Linked DNA regions of Homo sapiens: region 2 is linked to region 1. Evidence: fine-mapped expression QTL. A gene starts in region 1. The other region holds a variant in brackets. All regions are shown on one strand. Distances are between the middles of the regions. Region 1 holds the start of PIK3C2B (phosphatidylinositol-4-phosphate 3-kinase catalytic subunit type 2 beta). Region 2 overlaps PIK3C2B (phosphatidylinositol-4-phosphate 3-kinase catalytic subunit type 2 beta).

Region 1 (15,521 bases):
CAAATACTGATAAGGGAATTTATTTTAGTTTCTGGGAACTAGTGGCTTCTGAACACAATGAACAACAAAATAGCTCAGCCTCAGTTGGAGGAATTTTTCTTTCCTACAATTGTCTGATTCTTACAGAACAAAGACCAACAAACTGTGTGATCCTGAGCAGGCCTGGGTTTCCACATTTATAAAACAAGGGAAATTGATTAGATGGCCTCGAGATAACTTGTAATTCTAAAGTTTTACCATTCTGTTACTTTTTTCCATTGTGAATAAGATTAGAAGGAACAGACTCAAAATTTGCCAGAATGGAGTGATTTAATTCAACAAACATTTACTGATCGTCTATTACAGGTTAGGCTATGCGCTAGCCCTAGAGTCTGAGATGAGTAGGACATGGGTCCTGCTAACAGTCTAGGAAAGAAGACACACACAGAAACAAACAATTTCAACATAAAGTGGAGTGGCGGCAGATGAAGATGGACAGGAAAGCAGGGTTTATAAAATAAGGGTGGCTGGGCCCTTGAGTTTTCAGCAGGGAAACTGCATGATCATATTTCAGTTTAAACAGTTTAAACAAGTTAAACAGTAAAACAGTTTAAACAATGTTAGAGGTGTACTGAAGAAATTGTAATGAGCAAAACACAGACATTTATTTATTTAGACATATTTTTTTCAGCACCCACTGTGTTAGATAAGGAAAAACTGCTAGAACTGTTTCTATGAATGAGATGTGGAAATAAATTATAACACTTAAATTTTAGGGAAGGGAAATGGTGTCTATCCAGGCCTCCTTAAAAGGGCAAGAATAGATAAAGGGGTCTTCAAGTTTTTTCCTCCCCAAGGCTTTGTTACATCACACTCCCTTTCTTCCGGGATAACAAAACCTGCTGTTTAAAATTAAACTGAATGGGATTAATCAATCTAAAATTTGCTTACTCATTACCCACTGCTTCCACAGCAGTGAGCTAGGCACAGTAGGGAGGAAAACAGGAAATCTGGAAGGAATGTGGGGACTGCAAGGTGTATTTAGAGAATGGGGAATAACTTAATCTTGTTGGAGCAGAAGGAGATACAGAGGAGTAAGGTCACATTGGAGACTACACTTCCATCAGGCTAAGGCAAACGATTTTATCCTACAGGCAATGGTGAGCTATTGAAAGATCGGCTTGTTAACATTGCAAAGTCCACCCGAAATAGCATGAAATGAATCTGTTTGCTTCATTTATGTTGCATCAAAAACACCACAAGTGCCATCTTGTACTTTAGCATAAAATCTTCCTGGAGTGCTTCTTGAAGCTTCTTTATGCAGACTGTTGAACTTAATTTTCCCACTAGAGGGCAGGCTAAACTCACAGATTCTATATATTTGGTGATTCTCCTAGTTCTTAAATTTAATTTCTCCCACTATTTTTAAACTGTGTGCGTGTGGTGTGGTGAGAACACTTGAGATTACACTCTTAGCAAATTTCAAGTACACCATACATTATTAATAACTATAGTCACTGTACTGTATGTTAGATCCCCGAAATTTATTCATCTTACGACTGAAAATTTGTACTGTTTGATCAAGATCTATTTGTTTCCCTCACCTGCCAGCCCCATGGTAATCATTCTGCTGTTTCTATGAGTTTAACTTTTTTGGATTCCACATATAAGTGAAATAATATAGTATTTGTCTTTCTGTTTCTAGCTTATTTCACTTAGCATAAAGTCCTCCAGATTTGTCCATGTTGTCGCAAATGGCAGGATTTCCTTATGTATCACATTTTCTTTCTTTGTTTCTTTTTTTTTTTTCTTTAGATGGAGTTTCACCCTTGTTGTCCAGGCTGGAGTGCAGTGGCATGGTCTCAGCTCACTGCAACCTCATCCTCTGCCTCCTGGTTTCAAGTGATTTTCCTGCCTCAGCTTCCCAAGCAACTGGGACTACAGGCGCCTGCCACCACGCCCAGCTAATTTTTGTATTTTTAATGAGACAGGGTTTCATCATCATTTTGGCCAGACTGGTCTTGAACTCCTGACCTCAGGTGATCTGCCCACCTCGGCCTCCCAAAGTGCTGGGATAACAGGCATGAGCCACCGCACCCGGACCCCATATTTTTTATCCAGTCACCTGTAGACAGATACTTCTGCTGATTCCACATCTTGTCAATTGTGAATAATGCTGCGATGAACATGGAAGCACAGATCTCTCTTTAACATACTGATTTCATTTCCTTTGGATATATTCCCAGAAGTGGGATTGCTGGTTCTTACAGTAGTTCTATTTTTAATATTTTAAAGGAAACTCCATACTGTTTTCCATATGGCTGTACCAGTTTACATTCCCACCAACAGTGTACAAAGATCCCTTTTCTCCACACCCTCGACATCACTTGTAATCTTTTGACTTTTTGAGAGTAGCCACACTACCAGGTGTGAGGTGATATCTCGTTATGGTTTTGCCTTACACTTCTCTGATGATTAATGATGTCGAGCACCTTTTCATATACCTGTGGGTCATTTGTATGTCTTCTCTGGGAAAATGTTGATTGAAGTCCTTTGCACATTCAAACAAAATTCTGGTTATTTGTTTTTGTTTTGTTTTGCTATTGAGTTTTATGAGTTCCTTATATATTTTGTATGTTAATCCCTGATCAGATATATGGTTTGCAAATATTTTCTCCCGTTCTGTATGTTGCCTTTTCATTTTGTTGATCCCTACTATAATAATCTTTAAAGGGATGTTTTTTACCCTCCTTCTCATCAGAATTACTGCCTTTGGAAAAAAATCACCATCAATCTGATTACCCACTGTTTCCACAGCAGTGAGCTAGGCACAGAGGGGGAAAGTTGTGGACCCTTCCTTCCCAGAGTTCCCCAAACCAACACCAAGTCGTAGCTACCTACTCTGGGGCCCAGTCTTCTATCGCCACAGTATAGTGCATAGAGTCTTTGGAGCTGACACCATCACAAGGTACTAAGAAGATGTATAGTACAGGTTGTTTTTGTTTGTTTGTTTGTTTTGAGACAGTGTTGCAATCATAGCTTACTGTGACCTCAATCTCCTGGCTCAAGTGATTCTCTCACTTCTGCCTCCAGAGTAGCTGGGACTACAGGCATGCACCACCATGCCTGGTGAATTTTTTTTAAAAATGTTTTCGTAGAGATGGGGTCTTGGTATGTTGCCCAGGCTACTTTTATACTCCCTTAGCTCAAGGGATCCTCCTGCTTCAGCCTCACAAACTGTTGGAATTATAGGCATGAACCACCATGCCTGGCTGAGCCCAAGAATCTTACATAGCATCAAGAGCTCAGATACTGGAATAAATACTCCCTAAACAATGCAGCCCTCAAATGTCATGGATCATTGAAAAGGTGTAGGGAAGAAGTAGGACTGATTTCAAAGCCAGTAAGAGTCAAAGGATTGAAGAAGTCAATCTATACATAAAATATTTACAGAGCACCCCACCCCATCTCTAACATCCAATCATCTTTCAAAGATATTTGAATATTTTTGAAGAAAGCCTACTGAAGGATTTTAAAATAAAATTGTTATAAATACTGTCTTTCAAAATATTAGTTTTGAGTTGTATTACAGATTAGTCCTAGCCTAGAGCAGACCTATGAGAGAATATAGCACAGATAAACAGATTCTACCATCATCTCCTTCCATTGATTTCAGCCATTTGCTCCCTCACCAGTAATCTACTTATTATTACCACTGAAATCTTTTTTTTTTTTAAGATAGGACCTCAACTCTGTTGCCCAGGTTGGCATGCAGTTGTACCATCATGGCTCACTGCAGCCTCGACCTCCTGGACTCAGGTGATCCTCCCACCTCAGCCTCCTGGGTAGCTGGTAGTACAGGTACACACCACCATGCCCAGCTAATTTTTTGTGTTTTTTGTAGAGATGAGGTTTTGCCATATTGCCCAGGCTGGTCTTGAACCCCTGGGCTCAAGCAATCCACCAGCCTAGGCCTCCCATAGTGCCAGGGTTACAGGCATGAGCCATCACACCCGGTCACCACTGAAATCTTAGACTCTCAAGCTTTTCATTTTCTGGCTCAGTCACTCTGTCTTCCTGTAAACTAGATCCAGGTTTTCATCCATTCACTTATTGACCAAGAATTTATTGAGCACCAGCTTTGAATGAGGCAATGAATTAGGCCTAGAAATTCAAAGGTAAAAATAATGGAGATTCCTTGTCTTTAAGGCGCTTACAGTCCGTTGCCCTCCTCTTCTGTCCCCTCCCCAATTCAGAAAAAAGTGGACAAGCAATTATATATAACACCCATGATCAGTGTTATAATCCAAGTAGCTATTGGGTGTGTCTAGACACTCTTAGGAGGCACTCTAGGGAAACTTTGCAGAGAATTTGTTGTAGGATGTATTAGTTTGTTATTGCTGCTATAACAAATGACCACAAATTTAGTGGATTAAAGGAACACAAATTTATTATCCTACAGTTCTGCAGATCAAAAGCCCAACATGGGGTTCACTGGGCTAAAATCAAGTATCTGCAGGGTCATGTTCCTTCCTGGAGGCTCTAGGGCAGGATCTGTTTTTTGACCTTTCCAGTTTCTAGAGGCCATTCACCCCCTCCAGCTCAGGACCTCCATGCTTCAACTTTCAAGCCAGCAATGTTGCATTTTTCCAACCAGTCTTGCGTCATCACATCTCTCCCTGACTTCGGCTAGGAAAGGTTTGCAGCTTTTAAGGACTGACGTAATTAGATTGGGCCCACCTGGATAATCCAGGCTAATCTTCCACTCCCAAGGGCCTTAACTTAATCACATCCGTAAAATCCTTTTGCCTTGTAAAATAATGCAGCCATAGGTTCCAGGGATTAGGAAGTGGACATTTCCTCCTTTGGGAGGCCATTATTCTGCCTACCATGTAGAGAGACAGCTGCATAAAAGGAAGCGGGTAGAGGTGGGGATTGGAGGTAGGAGGCCCTTTCCAGGAAACCATGTGGAAGGGCCGTTAGGTGAGAATATTGTGCATTCTAGGAACTGTAGGGAGTTTCGTAAGGCCCAAGTATGAAGTTTACATTGGAATGTGGGAGGCTATTCATTCAATACATATTTATTGAATACTATGTGGTGGGTGCAGTTTGGGAGATGCAGGGATGCACAAGACAAAGTCCTTGTTCTCTGAGGCTAGAATGAAAAGCAAGGGCTGACTGTGAGAGAATTCAGAGTTTCCTTAGGAGATTGGACTTTAAGAGTTAGAGAAAGTCATGCATTAATTCATCTGCCAAAAATTTTGTGAGCACAAGTGCCAGGCATTGTTCTAGGCTCTGAGAATACAGATGTTTAAAAACCAAAGTCAAAAAATGCCATGTCCTACATGTTAGTTGATTTTAAGCAGGAGAAGCAGATGTTTGCTTTGGAAACATCACCCTGGCTGGGTTACTTGAGAAAAGATTGGAAGGGGAATAAGATTAGAGGTAGCTCAGTCCCTTTCCTCCCGCTTCTTGAAGATTCACAGCCTTTGCTGAGCTTCACTTCCGTCCTTGAGGACTTCCTCTTTTGTCAGGAGCCCTCTTTTCCTTTTATGCCTCTACTGTACCTATCTTGGAAACCTGACCTCATGTTCTACACCTGGGCTTCCAAGTGCTGCAGAAGAAAATGATGAAAACATTCGGATGTTTTTATTCATAGCCACAACATATTAGAGTATCCAATGCCAGCTGTATCTTCAACTCTGCTGACAATTCTCTCTCTCTCTCCTCTCTCTGGAGCTACCACTCTCATTCCTTATTCCTTTCTATTTTAACCTTAACCACTTTTTTTTTTTGAGATGGAGTTTCACTCTTGTTGCCCAGCCTGGAGTACAATGGCGCGATCTCGGCTCACCGCAACCTCTGCCTCCCTGGTTCAAGCGATTCTCCTGCCTTAGCTTCCCGAGTAGCTGGTATTACAGGCATGCGCCACCACGCCCAGCTATTTTTGTATCTTTAGTAGAGACGGGGTTTCTCCATGTTGGTCAGGCTAGTCTGGAACTCCCGACCTTAGGTGATGCGTCCACCTCGGCCTCCCAAAGTTCTGGGATTATAGGCGTGAGCCACCGTGCCCAGCAACCTTAACCACTTTCTTTAAGCCTTTAACCTCATCTTGAGCCTTTCTCTCTCAGCAGATTGCTTAGAGACTACAAGGCAGCAACTAGTCCTCTCAACATCTAGTCTCAAGTTCTAGTCTCTTTACCAGTCTACAGATGCCTCTGCTTTTGTACAGCCTTCCTCTCAAAGATATCAGAGGCAGCTCCACCCCATATACCTGGGTCCCAACTCCCTCCTATTCATGATCTCGCTCTCCTTGGTCTTACTCTTCAGCATATGAAAATGCTTAAGCCTTTCTTATCCTAAAAAGAAAAAACAAAAGTCTCCCCTTTGATCCTGCATTCCCCTCTACCCACTGCCTTATATTTCTCCTTGTCTTAAATTGCCAAGCTTCTAGAAAAAGCATGTGTCTTTTATTCCAGATCCAGGTTCATTCATTCACTTAGTGACCAATAATTTATTGAGCACCAGCTTTGAATCAGGGAATGAATTAGGCCTAGAATCCACTGGAGGCATTTTCTAGCCTACCCTCCTGGAGGTTCCTGCTGCACTGGTTATCCAGTCATTCTCTTCTGAGATTCTCCCACCCTAGTTTCTGACACTCTGTGGCCTCCAGTTTTTCTCTTACCTCTCTGGTTGTTTCTTCTTTCCTCCTTATGCCCATCTGGACGACCTCATACAGGCTTATAACTTCACTGACTACCCATAACCTACAGAATCCAAAGCTGCTATCACTTGTTCACACCCCAATATGAGTTTAGTTTCATAAGTTTGCTGTCTACTAGACATCCCCATCTAGACATTCCACAGATACCTCAAACCCAACATGTTCAAAATTAAGCTCAAGATCCCTCTGCCAACACCTGGGCCCTGTCTTTCTAATTGTCCCTAACTTAGGGAATGGTACCACCTGCCAACAATTTCTAAGGCTTCAAATGGGGAGTAATTCCAGAGTCCTCCTCTTCCCTAATTTCCTACATTTTATATATTTATCAAATACTATTGATTTCTCTTTATAAGTATCTTTTGTATCTGCTCCGTTTTTTTCATCCCCACTGCCACAGCTCTGGCACAGTTTTGAGATTCCCTGATTTCCCACCTGGAACGTAGCCATGGTTTCTCTGTTGAGCTCCCAGGCTGCACTCCTGACTTGTGTTACTAGGTCCTGGCAGAAAGCAAATGGCACACTGCACTTGAGGGGTAATTTGAGGAGAGGTTAAAAAATAAGGGGACAATTTATAAAGGGTCGGCGGAGTACAGGAAAACCACAAGAAATAGTGTACAATCTACTAGGGCCAGTAGCAAATCAATGTTTCCACCCCCAGGCCCGAAAAGTCAAAGGAGGGGAGTGATTACCTGAATCAAGAGAGAGGGAGGGGGCTGGCACTGTGGCTCACGCCTGTAATCCCAGCACTTTGGGAGGCTGAGGAGGGTGGATCATGAGGTCAGGAGATTGAGACCATCCTGGCTAACAAAGTGAAACCCTGTCTCTACTAAAAATACAAAAAAAATTTGGCCGGGCATGGTGGCATGCGCCTGTAGTCCCAGCTACTCAGGAGGCTGAGGCAGGAGAATCGCTTGCACCCGGGAGGCAGAGGTTGCAGTAAGCCACTGCACTCCAGCCTGGGCAATAGAGTGAGACTCGGTCTCAAGAAAAAGAAAAAAAGAAAAACAAAAGAGAGAGGGAGGGGAGAGAGAACCACCCGTGGAAGCTGTGATCTTTGGTTGAGGGTGGCAGCCAGCGCACTGTGACCCCAAAGAGAGGAATCCTGAAGAATAAATATCCAGTTTCCCCTGACCTCCCTCCTTATTCAATCTTCAGCCATGGCCCCCATTGGCCAACCCAGTCTAGGAAGCCAGAGGGCCAGGAAGATCTGGAGGGGCAAACGGAAGACATGCAGTGCATCTTCCAAATCCTTCTCTATAATATGCCAGGAAGTCTTTTTCTGGTCACACTACTTCCCAGTTCCATTTGTGCACAGCAGGTTCTCTGTCACCTACAGCACCTAAACTTTTTGGCATGCCCTGGTTTCTCTTTATTCAATTTTTTCCTTACCAAAATGCATGATAAAGCCTGTGATCTGATCCTCCACTCAGCTACCTATGCCTACTTCCTGTTAGTTCTTTCCTTCAGACTTTTCACCCCAGCAGCATAGAACCACCAGTGGTCGCCGGGCGCGGTGGCTCACGCCTGTAATCCCAGCACTTTGGGAGGCCGAGGTGGGTGGAACACAAGGTCAGGAGATCGAGACCATCCTGGCTAACACGGTGAAACCCTGTCTCTACTAAAAATACAAAAAAAAAAAAAAAAAAAAAGAAAAAATTAGCTGGGCATAGTGGCGGGCGCCTGTAGTCCCAGCTACTCCGGAGGCTGGGCCAGAAGAATGGCGTGAACCCGGGAGGCAGAGCTTGCAGCGAGCCGAGATCACGCCACTGCACTCCAGCCTGGGCGACAGAGCAAGACTCCGTCTCAAAAAAAAAAAAAAAAAAAAGAACCACCAGTGGCCCCTGTAACACTCTGTTCTCTCAGGCTCCTGAGCTTGACCTGATGACAGACACAGAGTAAGCTGTCATAAATATTTGTATGGTGAAGAAGTGCACGGACACGTTTTTTAACCCCTGTGGCTCCTGAGATCAGGAGTAGCATCATATACATTATGACATATGTGCAGACCAAGCTGCCTTCAGTTAATTATCAAGATGTTTCACCTACATTCTCTCCTTTGATCATTACGAAAGCGTGATAGGTGAGGACGCTATTCTTGATATTCAGAGGGTGAAGTGGAATACTGAAAGTCACAAGCATTGGGTACAGAAGGCACTGTAGGATCAGAAAGGGGAGTGATCCCTTTCCTCCCCATCATAAGAGTCACAGCCGACACTTCTATAACAAAAGACAAGTTAACCAGAGAAAAGCATAACAAATTTATTTAATCATGGTTTTACTTGAGAGGCTGAGGACCAGGTGTTAATCTTCATAGTCTGTCGAGAAAGAAAGAAGAAATGAGGGCAGTGGAGGAAAACACGATTCACGTTTTTAGGAAAATATACTTTGAGATTAGTGATCGTTGGTACTATGCAAACCAAATGCAAACGAGGAGCTGGCCAACTCATGGTTTCTTTTGGGTGGAGCCTTTAGGAAAATTCTTCCAGAGACCACTGCTGGAAGAAAGGTATTTAGAGTAGAAAATTTAAATATAACATATTGTATGAAAGGTTTTTTTTTTTTACTTTTTTTTCTCACTACCCTAGTTGGGTTGGAGGATCCTCTATCTCCCCTCCCTACTTAGGTTGACTGCTGTTTCCTGGATCGCAGCTCGGAAGATCCACCTGGGCGAATACAAAAACAAACGAGACTCCCCTTCCAGAAAGGGAGGAAGGAAGGAGACAGAAAGACGAATGACACTGAGCGTGTAAAGCCCGGAGACAGCCTCTCTCTACCCCAACCTAACCCTCAAGGTAGGGGATCCCCCGAACATCGCTACCGTAATTATGGTAGAAATTCCTGAAACGGATAACTGGACCTCAGCACCGTCATTTCTAGCAGAATGATTGAGCTTTCCTCTGACCCAAAGCCAAGGGGTTCCAGCAGGGGAAACTAACGACCATCCGCAAAAACCCTCACCCAAGTGGGGAGTGGAAATCCTGGCTCTTGGGTTGCAGAGCACAACTTGACGCCAGCGCGTTTCTCTTCCCCCACGCAATGGCAAGTGGGGCGGGAGTCGGAGGGGAGAGGAGGAGAGGAGAAGAGAAGAGGAGGGGGAAGGGGAGGGGAGAGGCGAAGGGCGGCCCGGGTTCCAGCAGCCGCCCCGCCCTCCGGCTCGCGGCGGATTCGGCGCTGCGGCTGGAGCCGGCGGCCGGGTGCCTGCCTGTCCAGGCAGGGTCTGGCCGAGCGTCGCGTCGCCGTGCAGTGCGCCGGGTGTCCGGGAGATGGCTTCCCCTCTCTCGCCCGCTGCTGCCGCTATTGTCTCACCCGGGGTGGCCTGACTCTGCGAGCTCGCGCACGCTCTCGGCGGAGAGCACCCCTCCCCACCCCCACAAGCTGGTCCTTGCGCCCTTTGCTGCCTCTCCCTCTGCCCCTTGGAGCCTAGGGTCTGTGCGGAGCCTGGAGAGGGGAGCGGCCCGGGAGCAGGCGGCGTGCGGCCGGCCAGCTCCTCTCGCGCTGGTGCAAGAGGCGCCTGGAGCCGCAGAGCGAGCCCGGGAGGCGCGGAGCGAGCAGCCCACGTCGCCAGGCACAAGACACGTCGGATGTTGCAGCAGAGCCAGCAGCTAGCGCAGGTAGGACACGCATCCTGCGGGTTGCATCGGCCCCAGCGTCTGTAAAGTGCCCCCAGAGTGGAGGCAGCCGAGGTCAGGGGGCTCTCCCTCCAACATGGCAACAGCGGAGGTGCAACAATGGAAGCAGCCGAGGGTTCCTGGCGGCGGGCTGAGCGGCGGACGCCGTGGGAGCCTGAGCTCCTGCCCGCCGGGCAGAGCAGGTTGCCCCTCACCCCACTCCACTCCACTCCAGCAGCTTCAGGGCCTCTGGGGCTCCAGGCACCCGCGTCCCCACCCCCTTCTCGCTAAACACACTTCCTGGCTCCCAGCTGCAGGGCGATCTGAACCAGTCAATGGCTTTGGGGTTTGTTTATTTAAGATAAGAAATAAAAAAAGCAAAACCTGTCCTGTGATGGGGTTAGTGCCTTCTGTGGACTGGGTGAGAAGTCGGCATCTAGCCTGGGGAATGTGTACGTTTCTTAGTCGGGCGGAGGGTAGAATTGGATTCTCCCTTATAAGGATACTGCAGCAAAAGGAGACTGAAAGCTTGAAAGAGGGAGAGGGACCCTCAGGCCTGAGTTCGCCGGTGCTGGGAGAAGGCGCTGCTCTCCTGGCCTATACTTGTCCCTCATTTTCAGCTCCCGACAGCGGTGACTTTGATGTTGGAGGAGCAATCGCAGCAGGAAGCACAAGCAAGGCTGCCAAGCTGGTGTGGGGTGGAGTAGGGTGGGGAGCCCAGGGGCTTGGCAGGCTTCTGGATTGTGGGAAGAGGTTACCAAATGTATGAGGTTAGTGCACACACCCTAGTTGGCTGATGTTGAAGTGTGTGTGTGTGTGTGTGTGTGTGTGTGTTTTCTGCCATTGCTCTTGCTCCTTCAGGCCTGCCTTTTCTCCTCTCCACCCGCTTCTGGGGTCTTCGTAGCTTCCCTGCCCCAGCCCTTCCAATCATGCCTGGGATGGAATCGCTGTATTGTCTCTGGCAGCTCTCTTGGGCTGTTTTTTCTCAACTCTGTTGGAGAGTTTTGTACCCTGGGCTGGCTGGTCCCAGCATGGCACCAGATTCTTTAGCAGGCGGCTACCCGGGCTCCAAGAAGTGGGCCAATGCTGCCCCTCCTCCTTGCTCTAAACTACCTATTTGGGATATGGCCAGGCAGATGTAAGCAATTTGTACTAAATTCCAACCCTGAATCAGTGCTGAATGAAAACTTACTCTGTTGCTGCATCAGGCTTTGGGAAGATATTAGGAAGAGAAATGGCCCAGGAGGTGGCAATGCCGACCCCCAAATACTTCCCTCTCCCCAACTCCAGCTGCCGATCCCAGAGCAGACAGGCAGTGAGACTTTGGAATCCCAGCTCCTCCAGAGTCTGGCTGGCCCATCTTGAGGTTGTGTCCATGGAAAAATTAAGTCGAGGCACATTTTATAGCTCTGCTTGGCAGCCAGCATCTGAAGAGATGGTGGCTCTGAGCTGGAGCCCTAGACCCAGGCTGTGGCTGCTTCTCCTTTGGCCTTTGGGTGAGCCTGAGGTTTGATTGCCATGGCTCTGAGCTTACTGCTGAGTGTGTATGGCTGAATCTGATCAAGCTCTCAGACCCGGCTGCTTGTCTATTTCCTTCTCCACTGGAAGCATGAGTGAGAAAGGGCCAAGGGGGTGTGCTGGGTGAGGAAGGGTCAGTTTATCTGGGGACTTGGGCTGTTTCTGGGGGAGCTCCTTTGGACTTCCTTGGTGGTCTGGAATGCCTTTGGTCTTTGTCATGACCTAGTATGCTCTGGCAGATACTCTATACCCTCGTGGGCCTTTGGTCCCCGCTTGGTGGTGTCCCCACTCCTCCTGTGCCTGGTGCTTTGCATCTATATCATGTCTGTGGTGCTTCAGCTGGGATGGCCCTGGCCTGGACCAGTGGGTAGAAAAATGAGGTCTCTGTTCCTTTTAGGGGCTTGTAACTAGCTATAAGGTTCAGGCTCCTCATGTTCCCAGGATGTGAACTTGGACATCATAATGTGAAGTAGTAGAGAAAACAGTGTCTTGGTGTGACTTTCTTTTTAGCTATGTGAGCACAGACAATTTGTGGACCTAAGATTTAGTTTGTATATTTGTAAAATGGAGGTGGGGGAGTAGCCATGGCTCACAGGATTAATAATGAAATGCTGCTTACCAAGAACTAAACAGAATCATGTGTGCAAAAGTACCCTGAAAACTACAGAGTACTTTACAAATGATTATTCTTACTGGGTTTAGCCTCCCACATAAGGGAGGGAGATCTGTGAGGGATGGGGATAGGGTGGGATCTGAGGGCCACATGGAGTAGGGAATGTTTTGGGACCTTTTCTTTCTTGCTAAGGAAAGAGTAGTGTGACAATACCAAGGTAACTGCTGTATTCCTTGGGTATTTTTCTTTAAATAGTGTTGGCAGGATGGGAACTGGGAGAGAAGGAAAGGATGCCTCATGATATTTGTAGGAATTGAGGAGGGATAAACACCTTCCAAAGGCTGGCTACTGCCTATAGAGAGGATAATGCTGAGCTGGCAAGTAATGTAATCACTAACACTCACTGATGTCAGCCAGCTAGTAAATGATAGAGGTGGGATTTGAAGCAAGCAGTCTCACTCCTTACCCTGTGTTCATAGCCTCAGTGCTACTCAGAGAGATATTGGGTCTTGGGAGAACAGAAAGGGACAGCAAAATTGTGGAGTTCATTCTTTTTGTTTGTTCTTGAGACAGGGTCTCTCCCTGTTGCCTAGGCTGGAGTGCAGTGGGCTCAAGTGATCCTTCGACCTCAGTCCCCACCCTGAGTAGCTTGGACTATAGGCATGCACCACTACATGTGGCTAATTTTTTAAGTTTTTGTAGAGATGGGGTCTCAGTATGTTGCCCAGGCTGGTCTCAAACTCCTGGCCTCAAAGGAACCTCCTGCCTTGGCCTCCCAAAGGGTTAGGATTATAGGCATGAGCCACTATGTCCAGCCTCAGAATTCATTTTTTTTTTTTGAGACAGAGTCTCACCCTGTCACCCAGACTGGAGTGCAGTGGTGTCATCTCAGCTCCCTGCAACCTCCGTCTCCCAGGTTCAAGGGATTCTTGTGCTTCAGCCTCCCGAGTAGCTGGGATTATAGGCGTGTGCCACCATGCCTGGCTAATTTTTTGTATTTTTAGTAGAGACAGGGTTTCACCATGTTGGCCAGGCTGGTCTCGAACTCCTGACCTCAGGTGATCCACCTGCCTCAGCCTCCCAAAGGGCCAGGATTACAGGTGTGAGTCACCATGTCCAGCCTCAGAATTCATTCTTAATGGATTCCTTGAATGCCCATGAGACGTCACCAGCCTGGGACATCTCATGGGCATGTAGGCATAATAAATTTTTCTGGGCCTCATCTGCTTTTCTATGCATTTTTATTTCTATGTCTACCTTCCAAGGAAGGAAGAGATGTGGGATAATCTGATCAAGTCATATTGCTGCCTTCTGAGCAACACTAATAGAAGGTTTGGGACTTGGAGGATCCTGGGGAAATTAAGGCAGATTTCTTGTTTTGGTATTTTCATATCTGCTTTATTTTGCATCTGTTTTATAAAATGAAACTTGAGGGACTATTCTTGCCTTTTTTTTTTTTCTTTTTCTGTTGAGACAGGATTTCACTATGTTGCCTAGACTGATCTCGAACTTCTGGTCTCAAGTGATCCTCCCACCTCGGCCTCCCAAAGTGTTGGGATTACGGGCATGAGCCACCTCTCCCAGCTTGTTCTTGCATTTTGTAAGATCACATAGAGTATCAAAACTGGAAAGGACCTGGGCCATCACTTCCCTGAGAAAAAGTGACTTTCTCAAGGTCATGCAGTTAGTAGCAATGCTGGAACTGAACGCCTACCCCGCAGATCACAACATGACCCGTGAAAGGACCTATCCTGCAACACTTTGGAGTTTCGTGCCGACCCAATTAGTGGCTTTGTCTTTGGGAAATTTACTTCCCCAAAACACTGGGACATTGGGATGGAATTCACTCACCCCAAATCATCACCCTGGTTAAGGAGACTAAAGAATCAGAAGACATTTGTGCTTTGGGGAGCAGAGGCCCTCAGGGTATAGAGAAGGAAGAAGAGAGAGGTTCACTGTAGTCCTGAAGCAGAAATAAGACCTGTGGCTGAAGGAAGCCTTAGCAATTCACTCCTTCCTCTTCCTGAGAACTCTCTGTAGGAAGTCTCACCTAGCAGAGGCTTCACAGTATTTCAGAGAAGCCAAAGATTGTTTGCCTCTTTGGAAACTGTTATCCTTCCATCATGACTGTGTCACTCCTGCCACTGTTCCACCATAGAGGTGGGTGCCTAATATTAGAGAGTTGTTTCACACACGTGGCTCATTCCTCAAGCCTCGCTAAGCCAAGCCCACCAGGAAGAAGCTTGAGTGGAAGCATTCTCTCCAGCCACATCTTTCTCTCTTTCTCTCATACTAGATGGCGTCCTTTGCAGCAAACCGTAAGTTATAAGGATGAGGGAAGAAGAGTAGAGGGCCAAAAGGATTCCATTTTGAGGAAAAACTACAGTTTGCCTTGCCAGGTAGAAGAATCAGGTATGAGTTCTTTTTGTCTCAGGTAATAAACTAAGCAAAGCCCAGATAGTAGTAATGATGGAGCCCTTCAACTATTGACGTCTCCCTAAGAGCCCTCATTTTCTGAAAGCAGAGTGTTTGTCCCATTCCTGACTCGCCATGCTGTGTGTCTCCCAGAGAGTGAAAGAAATTGCTGTGACTGCGAGCACCAGTAGAGTGGATTTAATTCTCACCAAGAAAAGGGAGGTGGTTTGCAAATGGGTTGTTTTGGGATCCTGGGAGAGGAACATTGTAGCCAGAGATATTAGATTTTCACTCTAGACTTTAAGGAGGCAGATTTTTTTTTTTTTTTAAATTAAAAGATAGGGGCCAGGAATAGTGGCTTATGCTGTAATCTCAGCACTTGGGAGACTGACATGGGATGATCACTTGAGCCAAGGAGTTTGAGACCAGCCTGGGCAACATAGCAAGACCTTGTCTCTACTAAAAATAAAAATAAAAACAATTAGGGTGTGATGGCGCACACTTGTGGTCTCAGCTACTCAGGAGGCTGAAGTGGGAGGATCTTTTGAGCCCAGGAGTTTGAGGCTGCAGTGAGCTATAATTGCACCACTCTGATTGCATCCAGGTTTCACTGTAGCCTGGGTGACAGAGTGAGACCCTGTCTCTGAAAATAATAATAATAATA
Region 2 (15,521 bases), 39 kb after region 1:
TCTTGTGCCCCTTTCATTGGATGTCGAGTGACTAGAAAGTCTTTTCATCTAGAGTTTGAGTTTAGGTCTGGAGTACCTCATAGGGAGGGGACACCACGAGGAAAAAGGCACTGAGTCGTCTGCTCTTCTCTTAAAGGTGGGCTCCCGGCCCCACACTGTTGCCAATGGCCATGAGTTGTTTGAGGTCTCAGAAGAGAGAGATGAGGAGGTTGCTGCATTTTGCCACATGCTGGATATGTAAGAGTTAAAGAATGGGGTGGGATTTGGGAGGGCTATGGGGGATGGGGAGGGGGGCCATCCATTTCCAAACTTTCTTTAGGAGGGAAGAAGCACCATAATAAGTAAATCTCAGTTCATAGCTATGAAAATGCTTCCTACAACAAGTGTCTGCAGGGTTTTTGAAATCTTAGAAGTCTCACATTTTTAGCAAAATTCATGAAACCTCCATTGAATGGTCAAAGTATCCTGATCACTCTAGAGTCTGACCCTCAGTTGCCCTTAAGAGCAAATGCACCCCAGCTGGCGATAAGAGTGTTATCTGGAACTAAAAGAGAAAGGAAATGGATTCATAAAAAATTTTCCATTAAACTTAGCATGGAAAGCTTTGTCATTTTAGAACTATTTGTACTGTTCAATGGTGGGAAACATTTTGCAATTATAAGAGAAGTGTCAAGAAGGGGGTTTCTCAGAGCTGCTACCCCACTGCCCCCATCCTGGCCTGCAAATTTGGAGGGCTGGGCTGAGTGGGGACAGAGGGGCTCTTGAGCCTCAGAGCATGAGGTTCCCAACAGATGTCTTCTTGACTACTCTCTTCTAAAGGCACAGTGAGGGTTTTTTTTCTTCCTGTACAGCCTTCGATCTGGCTCTGACATCCAAGACTACTTCCTCACTGGCTATGTCTGGAGTGCTGTCACCCCTAGCCCAGAGCACCTCGGGGATGAGGTCAACCTGAAGGTGACTGTGTTGTGTGACAGGCTTCAAGAGGCACTCACTTTCACCTGCAACTGTAAGTTAGTGAGGGGGGAGAGGATGTGAGCATCCCTTGAAGTGGGGTGGGGATGACTGTGTTTTGACTCGATTTCCACCTCATCTTGTGGCCCAGATGAAGGGCAGTGAGGATGCTCCTTTGGGGGTGAGGGGCTGGCTATGGGGCCAGCATTCTAGTACAGTCACTTTCCTCAACTCTGAACTACTTGCCTGCTTTATCTGGTTGGTGATGGTGCTGGAGAATACTTAGCTGGAAAGGGGGATCAGGGTGGGGAAACTGAGACCCATCTGCCTTGACATCCATCATGATTGCTCCCCCTACCTTACCCTTCACAGGTTCCTCCACTGTAGACTTGCTTATCTACCAGACCCTGTGCTACACCCATGATGACCTGAGGAATGTGGACGTGGGTGACTTTGTGCTAAAGCCCTGCGGGCTGGAGGAGTTCCTGCAGAAGTGAGTGAATGGGTGGGAGGTAGCCCCTGCCTTCCTGGTAGTAAGATTGTGAGGGGGCTTCATGGGATTGGTGCTGGGACCGGCCTGGCAGCTCCGCCCCAATCCCACAGTCAAGACTCCTGCTTTCTGGGCACACTCTCGGCCACGTAGCACTTTCCCCAGGAGCTCTGTCTTCCAGCAGGGTTGGCTGACGTCCTGAGCCAAGTCTGCTGTGGAAAGAGCTTGGAGCTGGGATTAGGCAAAGACTAGGTCATATCTGCTTGCAGATTCTGCTTATGGAGAGATGTGTGTATTTGTGGGGAGGGGTGGGCTTGGGGAGACTATATGGGTAGTGCTGTATCTCCTGCTCTAGATTATGTGTGGTGTTTTTATGGCTGGGGCAAAATGAGGACTGGGCAGAAGTTCCCTTGTGGAGCCCAGGGGAGAAATTACAATTACTGTCTCTCCCCATTCTCCTGCCAACAAGTCTTTTCCCCAGCTGGCCCGTGCAGCTAGTTATCCTCCTCCCAAAGGCGTGCCTCCAGCTCCTCTCCATCCAGTGCCCTCTCTGGAAAGCAGCCTCCCTGGAAAGTCTGATGTGGACCAGCTGAGGCAACCCCCTTTCCACTACCCTGGGCTCTGGAGGGCTGCAGTGGAAGAGAGGCAGGGGCAAGGTTATCACTTCTCAGATGGTACAGCTGTGTGACAGCAGACAGATAAGATCTGCTTTCCTCTCTTAGGCTTCAGAGCCGCTCCTGCCCCCAGTCTCTGTCCACTTGGAGGAAGCACGTTTTGGGAATAGAGAAAGGAGAGACCTGTGTCTCACTTCTTAGGAGTGCCCTATAAGTGCCACTGCTTGCTTTTTCTCTCTCTTACATTCAGGTCTAGATGCAAGGATGGTTGATCTATGTCTAGAGCATAAGATTTGGCAGTCAGGATGGAAGATTCATTTCTGGACTTCTTTCTTTTTTTGAGACAGAGTCTCACTCTGTCGTGCAGGCTGGAGTGCTGTGGCGCCATCTCACTCAGCTCACTGCAACCTCCGTCTCCCAGGCTCAAGCGATTCTCATGCCTCAGCCTCCTGAGTAGCTGGGATTACAGGCATAAGCACCACCACGCCCGGCTAATTTTTGTATTTTTTAATAGAGACTGGGTTTCACCATGTTGGCCAGGCTGGTCTCGAACTCCTGACCTCGGGTGATCTGCCCGCCTTGGCCTCCCAAAGTGCTGGGATTACAGGTGTGAGCCACTGTGCCCAGCTATCTGGGCTTATTTCAAATTTAAGGATATTGTGGGGTCCTTTCTGGCCTCTGCCTCCTCATCTCGAAGCTAAGGGAAAGGAAAGAGGCAGGGTTCTGTATGGTACAACTCCAGGGTACCCTTCAAATGTGCCCCACCTTTAAACTCACTTATGTACACACTTTTCCCCTAGAGGAACAGGAGGGGTCCTAGACTCAGGGTTGCCTGGCAGAGAGAGTGCCAGGTGGCCTGCCACTGTTAGAAGGGAAAAAGGGGACATAGTGGATAAGTTGGAGCTCCTGCTGACGCCATTACACAGGTTTGAATTCGGACTTGCCACTTACTAGTTGTGAAGGCTGATTGATGCTCAGGGCCCTCTGTAAGCTGCAGTGAGGGTGAAATGTGAGAATGACCTGTGAGCAATCAGTAAATACCAGCAGGGAAGGAGCAGCCCACGGAGAGAAGTCCTAGGGCTCTGGGCTGCACAGATACTGCCATTTCCCTTGCAGCACCCCAAATCCTGGAGCCCCTGGGTCCGGAGGTAGTGGGAGCTGTCAAGTTCTACCTTCCTGCTAAGACTCAGGTGAAATATTCTTAGTGAGGTGGGACAGGGTCAGCGGTCCTCAGATCACACCCCTCATACTCTCACTTGAATGCACAGAGAGGAAGGCCTTCCACAGAGAAGATCAAGCAAGTCCCCAGGGGACCTGTGTGCATGACTCCTGGCCTAGGAGCCCCACTCCCACCCAACAGAAAAGCACAATGCTGTCTCCTGGCCCAGCCCCCAGACCCCCAACACATGACAACTGCCTGGGATGGGGGTGGAAAGGACGCTCCGGGGGTTCCAGAAATCTGCTAGTTCCCAAGGAAGCCCTGAGATTTTCTACCCCTGCCTGGCAGGAGGGGCTGATACTGAGGGGGTGAGTGGGTTCAGGATGCAGGCTGCTCTCAGATAAGAACCTTGAGGCAGTCCCGTGGGAGGGTTGGGTTTCCTGCCACCTCCCCCAGCCCCACCACACTCTTCCTTCCTCCCAGGCTCTCCCACCAGGCCCAGCCCCACAGCCCAGCCTCACCACCTCCAGGTTTTGGCTGCACTTCAGTCTTAGATCTGAGAGGGTCTAGATCGGAGATTTGGTCCTCTCAGGATGTGGAGAACCCCTCACTCGAGCCCTCATGGGACCTAGACGACCCTGGGCCCTGCACCTCCGCCAGCTTTTACATATACTGCCCCCCTTATGCTCCTGTCCTCTCCTCTCCATTTCTGGCCTAGATTCCCAGCTCTGCTGAGGAAGGAAGTCCTTTTCCGGCTTCTGTTACCCAGCTGCTGAGGCCAGGCCCAGGCCTGCAGTGCTGGCCTGGAGGTAGTTCTCCCTCTGCCCCTCCTCTTGGGTTTCCTTGCTGTTGAAGGTGTGATTTGGGAGAGAGGAAGAGGTTGGATCGCCGAGGGCTCCTAGGCCTTCTCTCTGAAAGGGGGAGTCTCACACATGGGTGCTTGAGCAGGTGGGACTGGCATGCATTTGGGACTTTTCAAGAAGTCATAGAAATTTGTAAGGTTATTCACAAGCAGGCAGGGCCAACAGATGGAAGGCAGAAAAAGAAGTTGGGTGGGGACACTGATCTGGAGGCTTGGTAGGCTTGCCCCAAGTTTTTTTGGCCTCAGCACCCTAGTTGGTAGCATTGGAAGAGGGGTCTCTCGCTGAGCTCCCACCCTGGAGCCTGAGCACAGGTGGACTCCAACATGTCTCTTCCTGGTTGTCCCCTATACAGAGGCCCAGAAGATAGGGCTTCAGCAACTGCTCCCTGTGATGTGCCTCTGTTTCCCCGCTCTCTCCAACAGTTCCCAGCCCTGGAGTGAACCAGTGATTACCACACGGGTAATAAATATCTAAGAGAGTCAATATTTATACCGGCCAAGGATTAAGTATATTAGGTGGCTTTTGTTTAGATAGACCTCTGTTCCTTCTCCTAAGCTCTACCGTGTCATTTTCTAGGAGCCAAAGTAGGGTACAACACGGGTACTACCCCCTTACCTAAACCTTCTTTCTGTATGTCTCTCCCCAAGGCTAAGGTATGTATCTCCCTTGCCACTGAGTCCCCAGGATGCTAATGGTCTTGTCCCTCTACCCTACCAGCAAGCATGCCTTGGGCAGTCATGAGTACATCCAATACTGCCGCAAGTTTGACATTGACATTCGGCTACAGCTGATGGAGCAGAAGGTTGTGCGCAGTGACCTGGCCCGGACGGTTCGTGTGAGGGTGGTGGAGGGTTGCCCAGGGCTGGGGAGGTGGAATGGGAATACAATATAGAACACATCAGGTGGGAGGGGGGTAGGAGTGCTGAGCTGAGATAAGGGCACCGCCCCTCTCTGAATAGGTCACTTCTTATACAGGTGAATGATGACCAGAGCCCCTCCACCTTGAACTACCTCGTCCATCTCCAAGAGAGGCCTGTCAAGCAGACCATCAGCAGGTGAGTGTGGGCACCATCTTGGATGTGCTCCAAACAAGAACTGTGCAGGGATCCCATCAGATGTGCCTGCTTGCCTTTCTGTCAGGGCTAAGGGATTCTTGCAGGTGTCAGGGGTTGGGGCCCACACATCTTATCAGAGAAGATCCCCACTCCAGGCATGTTTCATTTCTTCCCTCTGGAACTTTGCCATCATTCTCTCCAGGCGAGAAGTGGCAGAATAGAAAGACTCTCCCTCTATATGTCTTCACAGGACATATAGAAAGAGTGGGAACTCCTTTAAATCAGAGTGTGAGCTGAGGAGAGGGAGGGAGAAAATGGGTTTCCCAGGGCACTGGGTCTTTCATGACCTCTCCTGTGGTTTTTCCCTGCCCCCAACTCCCAGGCAGGCCCTGAGTCTTCTGTTCGACACTTACCACAATGAGGTGGATGCCTTCCTGCTGGCTGATGTGAGTACGAATCCAGGGGCTGGCCCTGCTGCCCGAAAGCTCCTCCTCTCCCCTTCCTCAGTCCTCCTGGGATCACCCAGCACTATGAGGGGTCTGGGTGGAGCCTGAAAATCTGTTGGCAGAGCACTTCTTTTTAACCCCTCGCTCATGGGCAAACTAAGACTACTAGATGTTGGGCAACGGCAAGTGCGTAGTCAGGGATTCTGCTCCTCTATAGAAGAAGCAGGTCGGAAACTGCATGCTGGTCCCATTCTCTGGAATAGGATGTCTCCAGAGCTAAGGAACCTAGAGCTGTCACCCCCCAGCTGCTGCACTTGATGTACACTGGAGCATGCATCCTATGAGCAATGTCAGAAACCTCCAGTTTGAGAGGTTCTGTTTTGCTGTTATCGCAGGTAGGAAACCATCAGGAGGTAGAAGGTTTCACATGTAGGGAGGGCCAGAGCCCTCCCCACTTGGATTCATGCGGAGTCTCAAGCCTCAAAACCATGAGAGTCAACATTTGTCTTAAATGTCACAACGCCAAAGAAAATCTGACAGTGATCTTCAAAAATAATCCCTTGCTGAGTGTGATGGCCCACGCCTGTAATCCTAACCCTTTGGGAAACTGAGGTGGGAGAATTGCTTGAACCCCAAAGTTCAAGGCCAGCCTGGGCAACACAGCAAGACCCCATCTCTACAAAAAATACAAAAGTTAGCCAGGTATGGTGGCACACACCTGTAGCCCCAGCTACTCTGGAGGCTGAGGTGGGAGGATCGCTTGAGCCCAGGAGTTTGGGGCTGTGTAGTGAGCTATGATCACACCATTGCACTCCAGCCTGCGTGACAGAGTGAGACCCTATCTCAAAAAACAAAACAAAAACCAATCCCTGTCTCATTGATCCAGTTAATAGTAGTCATAAACGCTTCCTTTTTGAGGGGTTCAGCATTATGTCTAGTCACTGCCAGAATCCCTTCTCCAGCAGCCTGTGCTTGAACATTTCCAGTGATGCGGGGGAAGCTCTCTGAACACCTGTGCTGTGCTGTTCTGGCCCTTTGCTAGTGGCTACGATGGGTAGAGAAGTGTAAGAATCGTCATAGCCTTGGCCAGGTGCGGTGGCTCACGCCTGTAATCCCAGCACTTTGGGAGGCTGAGGTGGGCGGGTCACCTGAGGTCAGGAGTTCGAGACCAGCCTGGCCAACATGGTGAAGCCCCATCTCTACTAAAAATACAAAAATTAACTGGGTGTGGTTGCAGGCGCCTGTAATCCCAGCTATTCAGGAGGCTGAAGCAAGAGAATTGCTTGAACCCGGGAGGCAGAGGTTGCAGTGAGCCGAGATCGCGCCATTGCACTCTAGCCTGGGTGACAGAGCAAGACTCCGTCTCAAAAAAAAAAAAAAAAATTGTCATAGCCTTTGGGGAGCTTGTGTTCTTGTTAGAAAAATTGAATAGTAACACAAAGCTATTAGTAGACAGAACAGGATGGTAATAAATTAATTAAGGGCTCCTGGAGGATGCTAGAGGAAGGGGATTGGCCAGGGAGGGCTTTATGCAGGAGGTAGAATTTTAGCTGCTCTGTGATTTAAATGTACATAGGTAATCAGAGCTGGACAGGTGAGGGAATTCCAGGAGCATAATTCCAGAGGGGAGGTTATGGCTGTGGCATGTCTGTAGAAATGAGATGAGATCTGTCTGGAAATTCTACAGGTCTCTGGGAGAGACCCTGTATATATGTGTATAGTATAAGTAGACTAACTATAGAGAGAGGCTAGAGATAGGAGGAGCTTCAAGGGGAACGGCTGAAAGAATTGGGGCATGTGGGCATGGCCCATTGAATTCAGTGGGAGAGATTATTTGCTGATGATGAATATTTGAAAATAAAATGTATTGCACATTTACCCCTGAGGATCATGAATCTCTCTACTCTTCCCAACCCTTTCCTTTAAAGACTGGGGTGGGGAGGGGTTGGAGACCAAGAGCATGAGAGCAGAGCCTGCCAGCCTCACTGTGCCACCTCCCACAGGGAGACTTCCCACTGAAGGCTGACAGGGTGGTCCAGTCCGTCAAGGCCATCTGCAACGCCCTGGCCGCCGTGGAAACCCCTGAGATCACCAGTGCTCTCAACCAGCTGCCCCCCTGCCCCTCCCGCATGCAGCCTAAAATTCAGAAGGTAAAGGGGCCCAGGGTGCTAGCAGGGGAAAGGAAGAGAGGGATACTGTCAGGTAACTGAGTTGCCTGTTGCTAGAGTGTGTAGGTGTTCACTCACTAAAAAGGGGCTTCTCTCCACCTCCATCTTTTATGTTTAAGGAATTCAACCGCAAGAGCTCTTCAGAAATGGATGCCAAGTGTGTCTCCTCTTCCTGAGGTTGAGGGAGAGCTACCTGGGACTGCTTGTTGAGAGCCCAGGCCAGTAAAGGCTTTATTCACAGTCACCAAGGCATTGCCTGACAGTCTGCATATCCATCAGGGTGCAAAAACAAACCAGGAGGAAAATCTCTCTAGAGCCAGGGGCTCCAGGACTCCAGCAGGGGCTGTGTGCTCTGCAGACAGGGCCAGCACCATAGGCACTGTGATCTGCAGCCGAGTAGCCTGAGGGTTGGGATATCTCAGAAGGGTGGACCCGATGATTGCTATCCTCCGTCAGCTCACTCTGTCCATCATACAGATCTGGTACAAACCATTACTCTCTCCTCTCTGGGGATTCTCAGCTACTCACATTTCAGCCCATTCTGGTCCAGATGAGCGCAGCTGTGAAAAGCCCTTCTTCCAGCTGTGACGAAAAAGGCTATGGCCCTGAAGCTCCCCTCCCTCTTCTTTTTCCCAACAGGATCCCAGTGTCTTGGCTGTGAGGGAAAACCGAGGTAAGGGAACTGCTCTCCATCTTCATCCAGTCGGGCTGCCGAAAACTGCAGTCTCTGCCCCGATTCCTTTTTCTGCCTGGGCCCCTTGATTTATGTGTCGGAGTTCGGCTGGTGTGTGTGTGTGTGTGGGTGTGTGTGTGTGTGTGTGTGTGTGTGTGTGTGTTCCTATATGAGGTGTGGATACAGCTGGAGAGCACATTTCTTTCCACAAAGTGTTTTCTTATTATTTTTCCTAGTCATTCCTCCTGGTGTCCCTGGGAGATGATGATGAGGGGGTAGAAGTGTGGGAGTGGGGTGGTGGGGCAGCACTAGCCCTGTGATCCAGATGGGAAGCCTCC[C/T]ACTTGGGTAGATTGTGATTATTCTCCCAACAGCTCACACTTGCTACCTTTCCGATTTAGAGTGGGCCTTGGGAGAGGATGAGAAAGAATTTTCCCTACGATTTTTCTAGGATTCCCCTGTTGTGCCCTTCAAGCTGAACTTTGCCCTAAGACTGACCTATATCCCTGGGATTCCTTTGTTTTGGTTTTGTTTTTTGTTTTGGCATCCCTGGGATTCTTATGGTGATTCCCAGTCTTTTGGATTTCATAGACCAGTAAAATGTCCCCCAAAGTATTTGGGGGACCAAGAGAGAATTGGCAGCCTTTTACTTGGCCAAACTTTTTTGACTTTTGCTTTTTTGAAGCAACTGACAATAATTATTAACACTGTTTCCTAAAAGAAAGGACATTTTAATGCTAAGTAGCAATACGTAAAAATAAGGATTATGTTTAACATTGTATAACTGTCATTTTATGAAAAGCTCATGACATGCTTCTGCTTTTTTCTCATTTTACCGCAGATGGGTGAACTTTGTCACAGCTATTAGAGACTGACTAGCATTTGGGGACCACTGTCTTAGGCCATCCCATTCTAGCCAATGCCATGGCAACAAGGTAGGGCTTGTGGAGGCCTCATGACTTTCCCTTCTGACCCCTTCCCTTCCCAGAGAAGGTCGTGGAAGCCCTGACCGCTGCCATCTTGGACCTGGTGGAGCTGTACTGCAACACATTCAACGCAGACTTCCAGACGGCAGTGCCCGGGAGCCGCAAGCATGACCTGGTCCAGGAGGCCTGCCATTTCGCCAGGTCCCTGGCCTTCACTGTCTATGCCACCCACCGCATCCCCATCATCTGGGCTACCAGGTGAGCCCAGGGCTGAGTAGCCGCTAGGGAGCAAGCTGAGTTTGACCTCCACCAGGGCTTTTTCCTATCTGCATGTAATACCACTGTCCTAAGTCTTAGGATGTGTGGCATTGTGTGACATTGTGGTGCAATGGGGCTGCGGGGGTGAGCCAAGTGCCTGAGGAGGACTTGGGCTGGGGACATCCTAGAGGAGAGAGGAGGTCCCTTAGGAGATGAAGAAGATCCTGTTATTCCCTCTTGGTGCTGGCTGCCTCTGCATCCCTGCCCCCTCCAGATCCAAGACCAGTGGAAGGAGACATGGCAACAGATGGCCGATTCCCAGATAGAGTGCACGCTCCCTGGCCAGTGGGAGGGGGTGGGGAGGTGGGATTGACCCTTTGTCTGGGGTTCTCTAGGCCTGCAGGGGTGGGTGGAGGAGGATGTTCTTTTGGTAAAATCCTCAGCGCCTCTGTTGGGTCCCCAGCATCCAAGGCCTGAGGGAATAGGCACTGGGCCCTACCCCGCCCCTGCCGGTCCCCTTTCCCCAACCCCCTTCCCCTTCTCTCTTTGTTCCTTACTTAATGTATTCCTCTGGGCGATTGGCAGAGAACAAAGGAGGCAGCCTGGGAAACCGGGGCCTTCTCTGACCTCTTCTGTCAGGCACCTGTCATGAGCCACAGGGACCCCCGTGTGTTGGCATTCATGTCGGCATATGTCGTCTTCCTCCCCCACCCTTCTCACTTGCGCATGCACGTGCACGCGCACACACGCACGCACACACAGACGCTCCATGGGCTGGAGCTTTCTATAAAGAGGCTGGGTGGCCAGTTCCCATTAAAGGAAGAAAAACAACAAGGCTCAGAATGGAGCCTAAAACCGAGCAGAGGAATCTAGATTGAGTTGCTTTGGCCTGAGCACATTTCCTTACATCCAGTTTGGCTGTCCTATCCGGAGATCCTGTGTTACAGCCCTCAGAGACTGAGAGTTTTACCAGGGGAAATGGATTTTGGCCTTAGAGGGACGCATAGGTTTGGGTGATTGGTTTTGGGAGCTGGGTGTCCTGACCTGCTCCCTTTCTTTTATAGCTATGAAGATTTCTACCTCTCCTGCTCCCTCAGCCATGGCGGCAAGGAGCTGTGCAGCCCCCTGCAGACCCGAAGAGCTCACTTCTCCAAGTACCTCTTCCACCTCATCGTCTGGGACCAGCAGTAAGCCCTTCCCCCAGGCTTCAGTGCCCAGGCCACTGTAGACCTGCTCAGCCTCTGAAATATCCCTGGGGCCAGATAACTAGTCCAGGACTAATGATAAAACCAGGCTCCTTGTTAACCCTAACTGGACAAGTCATTCAACCTCTTGAGTCTCCACTTCCCTGACTCTTTTTTTTTTTTTTTTTTTGAGAGGCAGCCTCGCTTTGTTGCCCAAGCTGGAGTGCAGTGGTGCGATCTCGGCTCACTGCAAGCTCTGCCTCCTGGGTTCACGCCATTCTTCTGTCTCAGCCTCCCGAGTAGCTGGGACTACAGGCGCCCGCCACCACGCCCAGCTAATTTTTTGTATTTTTAGCAGAGATGGGGTTTCCATGTGTTAGCTAGGATAGTCTCGATCTCCTGACCTCGTGATCTGCCCGCCTCGGCCTCCCAGAGTGCTGGGATTACAGGCGTGAGCCACCACGCCTGGCCTCCACTTCCCTGACTCTTAAAGGAGCCAAGTATAATTACCACTTCTCAAGTTGTCATGAGGATCCAATGAGAAGTATCTATAAAGGCTCTTTGTAAACCATAAAAAACATATAAATTTTAGTTGTTGACCAGGCGCGGTGGCTTACGCTTGTAATCCCAGCGCTTTGGGAGGCCGAGGCGGGCGGATCACCTGAGGCAGGGAGTTCAAGACCAGCCTGACCAACATGGAGAAACCTCGTCTCTACTAAAAAAAATACAAAATAGCCGGGCATGGTGGCGCATGCCTGTAATCCCAGCTACTAGGGAGGCTGAGGCAGGAGAATCGCTTGAACCCGGGAGGTGGAGGTTGTAGTGAGCTGAGATCGTGCCATTGCACTCCAGCCTGGGCAACAAGAGCGAAATTCTGTCTCAAAAAAAAAAAAATTAAATGTTAGTTGTTAATTTTAATAATACTTTATTTTTTGATCTTGTCTCCCTTAAAGAGTTTAACTAGTTGGAGGGCTTCTCATCCTCTCCCTTCTTCCCTCAGTTCCTGTAGACTATGGAGAGGAGACTGTGCTTTTCCCTTTATATATAGAGAAGGGAGGGTTGTCTAGAGAAAGAATATTGAGCTTGGATTCCCAGGAGTGAGCCTCTATTTCTAGCTCTGTCTCGAATACTACTTTCTCTCTATTCTTTCTGTGCCTCATTTTTTCAAACTGAGAAATGGGGACATTGGTTTCACTCAGAGGCAGTTATGGCGTCGAGATGAGATAGGTGGGTTATAAATATAAATATGAAACCAAAAGCACAAGGTAATATTAATCACCACATGTAAACAATAATTTGGTGTCGGGAAGGTAGGCGTCAGCCAAGCAAAGCAGGAAGGAAACGGAGGAGAGGGTGCCTTGCTTGAATGGGGGCACCGCAGGGGTTTTCCTGCCCTGTGCTTCATCTGTGCTATGCTCTACCTTCCTTCCAGTCAGTCAGAAAATCCCCTGTTTGCTGCCCCCGGCTTTGCTTCCCCACACTGACTATATTAGAGTCCTCATTTGCAGAGCAGCACTGCAAGCTAAGTATTTGTAGCACAGATTAAAGAGACTGAGGAGGGTCCTGGGGAGGCCGAGGATGCAAAATAGGTAGATGAAGAATCTGGAGATGCTGGAAGAGGTGGGTCCTTTTACAGATGGACAACTGGGAAAATGGACCCTTTCTCATGCCCTTCACACTTAGGTAATTCTTAGAGCAATAAAGGTGTATATGGCTGGGCACGATGGCTCACACCTGTAGTCTCACCGTACTTTGGGAGGACAAGGCGGGATAATCACTTGAGATCAGGAATTTGAGACCAGCCTGGGCAACACAAAGAGGCCTTATCTCTACTAAAAAATTATTTTAAATGAGCTGAGTGTGGTGGCGTGCATCTGTAGTCCTAGCTACTTAAGAGGCTGAGGTGGGAGAGTCACTTGAGCCTGGGAGGTCGAGGCTGCAGTGAGCCATGATCACACCACTGCACTATAGCCTGGGCAACAGAGTGAGACCCTATCTTAAAAAAAAAAAAAAAAAAAAAGGACATGGGGTGTGCATTAAAGGTCCTCAAGCAAACAACTGCCAGGACAGGAGAAACTCCTTGCAGGCAGAGGATAGCTGCATTAAATGGCCCTTGAGTTCCACCATTCCCTTGGGATTTTTTGGTCACAATTACTGCTGCTGTCAAGAGAAGGGGTGCCAGCCTGGGCAACAAGGGAGACCCAATCTCTACAAAAAATACAAAAAATTAGCCAAGTGTGGTGGCATACACCTGTGGTTCCAGCTACTTAGGAGGCTGAGGTGGGAGAATCACTTGAGCCTGGGAGGTCAAGGCTGCAGTGAGTATCCAGCCTCGGCAACAGAGCGAGACCCTGTCTCAAAAAAAAAAAAAAAAAAAAAAAAAGGGTGCTGCACAGTGTTCTGGCCCAGGAGGAACTTTAAAAAATTGGCCTTAAACCCTTTACTCATACAGTATCAGAGGTAGAGAGGCAGCCCAGCCTGCCCCATGAGTTTCATTTTGTTCCCTGAGATCCCCACCTTGAATTTTAAAGGGGCAGTCCCCTGCCTAGCGCCTTGTGAAGGGCACTATCTTGCACTGTCCATCCAGAAGCCCCGAATGAGACTTCTTGGCCCTTCATGGTCAAGACCAGGACATTTGGGGGAAGGCGTGCCAGCGTTCAGAGGACAGTCTTTGGGCCAGTCATTCTCTCCTTCCTACTGTAGTTGCAGCCTGGGGCAGGTCTTTCAACCTAGAATGGTAGCGATAATAGGGCCTACCCTACAGGATTGTTTGAGGAGCAGTTAGGACACTGTAAATAAAGTACTTGGCACAGGCTTCTTAGCTGGGGAGCCCTCTTGGTTTTGGTTTCTCTGTTCCAAGTGACTGACAGACTGGCTGATACATGGGGATACGTGCGCATGAAAATACTATCTGTATAAGCCAGTGCCAGTGCAGTAACCACAGCATCACATAGCAAAAAGTACACAGTCTGCACACACATCATGCAAGTGAAGCTATGTTCCCCTTTTCCCTGATGAGAAACTGAGGCACAGAGATGGGAATTAAGTTGCCCAGGATTGTGAGTGGCAGAACCGGGACTGGAGCCAACCAGCACATTCCAGGAATCCTTCCTGGAGGAGGCAGCCTGTGTGATATGAGGTTGTTGAATGGGCTGCAGGAAGGAGAGGGGCTTCTCAGGGAGGAAGGTAAGGGCTGCAGCCAACATAATGGTTATCCTGACCAGCCCTGGGTGAAGATCTGTGGGAGAGGTTGTGGAATACCAGATATACCCAAGGACTGAAGGGAAGAGGGCCTTGGCTGGCTCTGGTTTCACTCATAAAGTCTTCTCACTCCCCTTTTCCTTAAGACACGAAGCTGGAAGCTTCTTCCTTGGGTGAAAAGAAAGGGCTCAGGACCAGCTCCCTCTCCCCTTTGCTATGGGGTCAGCTGATTCTCTGCCCCACTGTAGCGGTCCAGGGATCAGCTAACTCTCAAAATAGGCTCAGCAGCCGTGCTTTGTCACCTCCAGCCAAGCCCTGGCCTGGCATGTCTGCTGGCTGCTGGAGGGGCCCTAATTATAGCTGTGGGCCCCCAGGGTAGAGGCAGCTGGGACAGAGCAGGGCTCTGCCAGTCTGTGGTGGGCTGGAGGGAGTGCCTCACTTAGGTGGAGATTCCTCTGGAGGACAGCGGTGGAGGCAGGCTGCTTTATCATGAAACTGCCAACCTTGGGGGTGGCCGCCCTGCCTCTGCGCCCTCTGGCATAGAAGTTGCTGGGCCCTGGGCTGGCCAGGAGGGTGTGACAGTATGGACTTTGGCCCAGGGACAGCTTCCCCGAAAGGTAACGTGGGTCCTCCCTGCCTTTCCACAGCTCCCCTCCCCTGTGTACTTCACCCCACCCAGCAGTTCCTTATCCTGAGCTTAGAGGGAGTGGCTAGGTGTGATTCAGACTGAGGGACCTGGAGAGAACTTATGGGCTTGAATAGTGGTGGGGCTTATGTGTCTCAGTTCTCTTGGCCCTGCCATTGGCTTTCTCACCACTGGGGTACTTGGAGAAACCCCTCCTCTTTGTCCCTTTGGCTTTGAAGCTGTTTGGGGGTGGGGGTGAGAAAAACCCAGTGTGTGTCCCTGGGGCTAGGTGAAGGGGACTCCTATGAGGACAAGTGAGAGGGCTGTGGGGGAGGGTGAACCGAGGGCAGAGAACATGGTGCTTCTTCCTGGTGGCTCTCAGCAGCAAGAAGTGGGGGAGGGATGGAGACTGTCAAATGGAAAAGGAGGACAAAAGGAGTAGCTTTGCGGACCCTCTGCGGAAATCCTAAAACAAGGAAAGGAGCAAGGCTGACAACATGGGACGTGTCATCACCTGAACTCCGAGGTGGCTCTGCTAAGCAAGTTCTGTCCAGGCACCACGGGTAGCTTCAAAATCGGGATGTTCGCCTCACTCTACTGCAAAGCTCCAAGGACACCACATTGTGCTTCTGGGAACATCCAGTGGGGGTTTTGCCTAGTTTGGGACCTCTCCTGGTTCTGCAGGAGGAGGGCTTCCTCAGGGAGTATGTCTGAACCCTGAGAGGGAGGCTGTATCCTCAGCCTCAGCCTCAGCCTGACTTCCTGGGCCACCTGTTGCTTGAAGCCACAGGAGTGGCCCCTCCTAATTTGACTTCCTGTCCTCCATAGGATCTGCTTCCCAGTGCAGGTGAACCGGCTGCCTCGGGAGACACTGCTGTGTGCCACTCTCTATGCTCTGCCCATCCCCCCAC

The links. PIP is the estimated chance that this variant, and not a neighbour inherited with it, causes the effect.
Region 2: its variant is fine-mapped to the expression of PIK3C2B in whole blood (TOPMed, PIP above 0.99).

The regions. Positions count from the first base shown.
Region 1 is chr1:204,489,149-204,504,669 of GRCh38, reverse strand. PIK3C2B (phosphatidylinositol-4-phosphate 3-kinase catalytic subunit type 2 beta) reads left to right here and starts at 9,865. Exons shown (of 33, transcript NM_001377334.1): 1 at 9,865-10,314. It overlaps LOC124904584 (translation initiation factor IF-2), which reads right to left and starts at 12,919. Exons shown (of 2, transcript XM_047439554.1): 1 at 12,909-12,919; 2 at 8,938-10,494. The coding sequence starts at 12,919. The coding sequence ends at 9,474. RefSeq lists silencers at 9,716-10,185, 11,745-11,824 and enhancers at 10,286-10,415, 10,486-10,675.
Region 2 is chr1:204,449,935-204,465,455 of GRCh38, reverse strand. PIK3C2B (phosphatidylinositol-4-phosphate 3-kinase catalytic subunit type 2 beta) reads left to right here. Exons shown (of 33, transcript NM_001377334.1): 3 at 137-237; 4 at 852-1,006; 5 at 1,324-1,444; 6 at 4,795-4,906; 7 at 5,053-5,132; 8 at 5,515-5,578; 9 at 7,582-7,728; 10 at 8,386-8,419; 11 at 9,405-9,600; 12 at 10,665-10,787; 13 at 15,439-15,521. Among named protein-coding and RNA genes, the nearest start is that of PIK3C2B, 37 kb to the left of the region's middle. RefSeq lists silencers at 2,961-3,255, 8,069-8,269 and enhancers at 7,140-7,639, 7,640-8,141, 9,649-10,626, 12,219-12,328, 15,483-15,521. The variant C/T (reference allele first, on the strand shown) is at 8,758.